Regions from separate parts of the Homo sapiens genome. Here region 1 is linked to region 2. The links come from fine-mapping of genetic effects on plasma protein levels. A gene starts in region 2. The other region holds a variant in brackets. All regions are shown on one strand. Distances are from middle to middle.

What was found. PIP is the posterior inclusion probability: the model's chance that the variant is causal. Sun 2018 read protein levels with aptamers (SomaScan).
Region 1: its variant is fine-mapped to the plasma level of the RNASE1 protein (Sun 2018, PIP 0.95).

Annotation. Positions count from the first base shown.
Region 1 is chr14:20,817,607-20,820,520 of GRCh38, reverse strand. No RefSeq gene overlaps it. Among named protein-coding and RNA genes, the nearest start is that of RNASE1, 16 kb to the right of the region's middle. RefSeq lists an enhancer at 1-31 and a cis regulatory region at 1-185. The variant T/C (reference allele first, on the strand shown) is at 1,457.
Region 2 is chr14:20,801,143-20,804,056 of GRCh38, reverse strand. It overlaps RNASE1 (ribonuclease A family member 1, pancreatic), which reads left to right and starts at 1,213. Exons shown (of 2, transcript NM_002933.5): 1 at 1,213-1,260; 2 at 1,964-2,829. The coding sequence starts at 1,989. The coding sequence ends at 2,459. The region is part of intron 3 of LOC105370397 (a long non-coding RNA gene); the gene reads right to left.

The DNA of each region.
Region 1 (2,914 bases), 16 kb before region 2:
AAATTCCGTCCCCTGACACACGTGCAATAAGGGGCCCGCACGCACATTAGGAAGACACGGTGGGGCTACGACACATTCACCCCTTATGCAAAGGAGACTCCCAGCCCTCATGGGTTTTCTATAAAAGCCTTTGCATTCAACTGTAGAAACAACAGTCCTCTTCCAGGTCCCCTCTCTGCAGCGGAGAGCTTTCTTCTTTCGCTTATTAAACTTTCACTCCAACCTCACCCTTGGTGTCCAGGATCCTTAACTTTCTTGGTCATGAGACAAAGAACTTAGGATGATGCCTTGGGCAGCGAGAGACTACTACATTGTGGTGCATTGGCAAGAGTGTAACAGTGGCAGAGAACCATCCTGCTAAAAGTGAAGCCTCCTCCCCAAGGGCAGTCAACATCTAATAAATGGTAACGGGATATAAAGGCTTGGTCCCTTTACCTTAATTCAGAACAACTCTGAAGGTCAATCTAGCTCTAAAGAAAGCTAGAATACCTGTGGGATTGGCCAAGGCCTTTGTTGTGACTGCATCAAAATCCTACCTCTTCTGCCCGATAATGCTTCCTTCACTCCCTCTGCAGATATTGCCCCAAGATTGCTGTGCAGTAAACTTTTTTTTTTTTTTTTTTTTTTTTTGAGACGGAGTCTCGCTCTGTCGCCTAGGCTGGAGTGCAGTGGAGCGATCTCGGCTCACTGCAAGCTCCACCTCTCGGGTTCACGCCATTCTCCCTCCTGTCTCAGCCTCCTGAGTAGCTGGGACTACAGCCACCCGCCACCACGCCCGGCTAATTTTTTTGTATTTTTAGTAGAGATGGGGTTTCACCGTGTTAGCCAGGATGGTCTCCATCTCCTGACCTGGTGATCCGCCCGCCTCAGCCTCCCAAAGTGCTGGGATCACCGGCATGAGCCACCGCGCCCGGCCTGCAGTAAACATCTTAAATGCACATCTTAATCTCAGTGTTTATTTTTGTAGAGAATCTGCCCTATGACACAAGAGTATAAATGCAGACATAGAAGAGTTTTTATTGAAGGCAGTGTACATGTAACAAGTTGTAAATCTTATAAATGTCCCCAAATACAGAATTTGTTTAATGAATTATGATATATCCATAACATGAAATACTATAGAGCCATTTAGAGTAATATAGATATATGTTGACTTGGAATATATAGGATGGAATTTTTTGTGTGTGTGTGTGACAAGGTCTTACTCTCTCGCCCAGGCTGGAATGCAGTGGTTTGATCATGGCTCACTGCAGCTTCACCCTTTTGGGTTCCAGCCATCCTCCCACCTCAGCCTCCTGAGTAGTTGGGACCACTAATTTAATTTTTTTTTTTTTTTAAGTAGAGACAAGGTCTCACTATACTGCGCAGGCAGGTCTTGAGTAGCTGGGACCACAGGTGTGAGCCACCATGCCCGGCTAATTTTTTAAATTTTTAGTAGGGACGAGGTCTCCCTCTA[T/C]TGGCCAGGCTGGTCTCGAACTCCTGGGCTCCAGCAATCCACTTGCTTCCGTCTCCCAAAATGTTGGGATTACCGGCGTGAGCCACCAAGCCCAGCCTAGGATATGTTTTTAAATAAACTTAAAAAAATTGAAATATACACACAGAAAAAACATAATTACATAGCTCAATAAGTTAGCTCAAAGCAAACAGATCTGTGTTCACCACTATCCAGGTTAAGAAATTACATATTACTAGGACCCCAGATGCATTTGAAGAGAAAAAGCAGAATCTGAAGCAGTGTTACAGTACTTCATATTTTATAAAATCTTACACATAGACAAAAGTGTGGAGAATTACACCCTAAAATGTTAATAATGTTGTAGGTGATGAAAATACAAGTAGTATATTTCTATTAATTTAGCAGGAATTAAAAAAGATACAAAAGATACAAAATTATCTTTTTCAATATTCCATATCTAGGTCACTTGGTAACTTAGAGAAATATATACTGCAACTTCCTAATGAATATTTATTAACTGCTGACTTGTTCCCAAAATTCATTAATTAGCACCCTCTAATTCTGTATTGTAAGCTCCATTACTGGATTTATCTGTAATTTTGGGGTCTCTGTTAATACTATATTCCTGAAGCTTTCTATTTAACTCAGTGAATTGATGATGGAACCACAGACAGACCAAAGTTGCTTTTTCCTACTATAGAAATCAACATAGAATGAATTTATACATTAAATTACAGCACTTACTCTTCATGCTGCCTTAGCTTTACAATAAAAGCTTTAAATTCCTGTAAGTGTGAATACACTGTGGCATTTAGTTTCTTCATAGAAAGATAAAACTTTGTGAATTGTATTTAGTGTGAACATACACAAAATCCATACTGGGGTAAAAATCCATTTTTTTGCTGGTCTTTCACAGGAATTTAGGAGTATGGGGGAAGGGGTATAGGTGAGAACTTTGTCTCTTTCTGTGTATCTGTGTTTCTGCACTAAGGTGTGGGGTTTGTTTTTTCAGTTAGACCAAAGGCAATTGATGAATACACTCACAAAAGTAACTCTGGCTCTGTGAGAAGCATAAAAGTCTTAAGAAACTAGATTTCCTATTAAGATCCAACCTTTCTTCCTTAGAGATATTGAGGGGAAGATCTTTAGAAGGAGATAACATTAAAAAACAGACGGGCCAGGCGTGGTGGCTTACTCCTGTAATCCCACCCAGCACTTTGGGAGGCCAAGACAGGCAGATCACCTGAGGTCAGGAGTTGAAAACCAGCCTGGCCAACATGGTGAAACCCTGTCTCTACCAAAAATACAAAAATTAGCTGGGTGTGATGGCAGGCACTTGTAATCCCAGTTACTTGGGAGGCTGAGGCAGGAGAATCTCTTGAACCTGGGAGGCAGAGGTTGCAGTGAGCTGAGATTGTGGCACTGCACTTCAGCCTGGGCGACAGAGTGAGACTCCGT
Region 2 (2,914 bases):
TTACACGACACGGGAGCCTTCAGAAGACCCAAAGATAACAGGGGAAAGTGGGCATTCTTACACTTGGATATCAACAAAGTATGAACAGCTGTGTAGAAATATGACTGGACAACAGGGCGATCTAATGAAAATAGACTGAGTGGGGAAACCCAGCAAGGCCTCCCTGTCTAGATTCTTCTTGGCCTCTCTGAGCATTCGTCCTTTTTTTCTGGGTATGGGGGGCAGGACCCTCTCTGGAATGAGGATCTTACGACCTACAATCACACAAGGTAGGTCAGATAATTTCACTATGGCCACTTTTTACACAGAAAGGCTGAAACAATCTGAATACACAGCACGAAGGGATATTTTGATAATTCTTAGAGGTATCCAAATTGTTACTCAGCAAAAAAACAGGTCTCTTTCTAGGAGGGCATTCTGCTGCTAATAAATATGATATTCTTTGTATTTTTTCCCCAAAAAGAATTTGAGATTTGGGATTTAAGTTTATCTTTAGTTCCTCTACTCAATTCCGACCTACAGGGTCAGTGGTTACTGTAGATAAGAACAGCCCCATCCTCTCGATGCCCCCAGAGCAGGGGTGGAGGGTGGGTGGGAAGTGGCCAGAACTGGGTGAGCGCACCCTAGAGGCCTCCTCCTCCTCCCTATTCAGTTACTCCCCCTTTCTTCTCCAGATCTGGGAAGCCTTCCAGCTGGGGGCAGCAGGACAGCCTCCATTCCCCCCGACCCCGCCTCCCATCCCCGGGAGAGGTAGCGTTGGGAGAATGCCCTCCTAGAAAGAGACTTGGGTTTTGCTCCCTAGGAGCCCTGGAATAGCTTTGGCCAGAATTCCCTATCTCCCATTAGAACCTCTCCTTTGCGTCCTTTGTTAACCTCCAAGTCTACTTGGTGAAAACGCCCACGAAGAAGTAACAAGGACTTTGTTCCTAGTGTGCCAGGTTTGGGCACCAGTGCTGTAGTGGCTTTCTCTGCTGCTCCTTGTGCATCAGCAGACAGATGTGGTTCACATAGGAAGAAAGACTAACGTAGGCAAAGATTTGCTCTTTCTTCAGCAGCCCTAGAAAGACGGCGGCCTGGGTGATTCACCACTCCTTCCTCACGTCCTTGATTTTATTTGAACTGAGCTCCAGATGCTCCTCCCACCCTTTTCCTCTTGGAAGCCAAACCCCTTTGTAATCTGTATAAGGTCCACACCCCGGGAGCTGAGTGATTGCAGAAACTGGCCTTCCATCTCTCTCAGACACCAAGCTGCAGATCCAGGTAAGCAGCCCAAGAGGTGTTCTCAGGTGCCGCTTCTGCTTCAGGGTTGCAGAAGAGGGAGCTAGGGCCAGTCCACAGCACTGAGAAAGATTGGGTGATGCTAGCGCTGAAAAAATGTGGCCCAGGCAAACATCAGCTGGGGGCAGAGGGGTCAGGGTGGAACGTGCAGGCTGCAGAGCATCCATGGGACTGGAGAAGAAGGAGCCTCCAAATTGGGGGAGGCCAGCGTTTCTCTCTGGAATACAATGGAATCTTTTATGATGCCAGTGTCAGGCACTGGCCTGAGTTCCCTTATGCTCCAAGACAACAAGGCTCTGTCACCCATGGCCCTGGATGTCGGGGATACAATTTGGTTCATGATTTATTCAAACTGATGTTTCGATGAGCCATTTGAGCACTGGGTACAAATGTATTTTGGATCAAAGAAACTCCAGTATTCAAAGATAGGAACTGACAGGATTTTAGGTCACTTTGTAGGTCACCACCTAGAGGGGAGGAAGACCTCGCTTTGGAGAGTGGGAATAAAACGCTCGTGGAAAAGGGTACACGTGAGTGTCTCATTACACGAAAAACCTCAGGAAGTAGGATGGACGTCTTTCTGGCTGACCTGAAACAGAAAGTGTAAACCAGGCAAGCCATAGGTGGGAGCTGGAGTTCTTTTTCTAAGAGGGCTCTTTTCCTTCTCTCTCCTTTTCTCAATTAGGCTTTTCTGGGAAAGTGAGGCCACCATGGCTCTGGAGAAGTCTCTTGTCCGGCTCCTTCTGCTTGTCCTGATACTGCTGGTGCTGGGCTGGGTCCAGCCTTCCCTGGGCAAGGAATCCCGGGCCAAGAAATTCCAGCGGCAGCATATGGACTCAGACAGTTCCCCCAGCAGCAGCTCCACCTACTGTAACCAAATGATGAGGCGCCGGAATATGACACAGGGGCGGTGCAAACCAGTGAACACCTTTGTGCACGAGCCCCTGGTAGATGTCCAGAATGTCTGTTTCCAGGAAAAGGTCACCTGCAAGAACGGGCAGGGCAACTGCTACAAGAGCAACTCCAGCATGCACATCACAGACTGCCGCCTGACAAACGGCTCCAGGTACCCCAACTGTGCATACCGGACCAGCCCGAAGGAGAGACACATCATTGTGGCCTGTGAAGGGAGCCCATATGTGCCAGTCCACTTTGATGCTTCTGTGGAGGACTCTACCTAAGGTCAGAGCAGCGAGATACCCCACCTCCCTCAACCTCATCCTCTCCACAGCTGCCTCTTCCCTCTTCCTTCCCTGCTGTGAAAGAAGTAACTACAGTTAGGGCTCCTATTCAACACACACATGCTTCCCTTTCCTGAGTCCCATCCCTGCGTGATTTTGGGGGTGAAGAGTGGGTTGTGAGGTGGGCCCCATGTTAACCCCTCCACTCTTTCTTTCAATAAAACGCAGTTGCAAACACCTGATTTCTGAAGCGGTTCTGTCTAGGTACTGTTTCTGGCATTGCCTTCCAGCAAGGGGTAAGAACTGTAAATCTGATTCACTTTGGAGAACGGTGAATGGAGTAATTAAATGCCTTCCCTTCTGACTTGGATTTTAGTGGCTTGAGAAAATTCCTTTCCTTGTAGATTCCCTGATGCCAAACATAAAACTGTTAAGTGTGGGCTGTTTTAGACAAA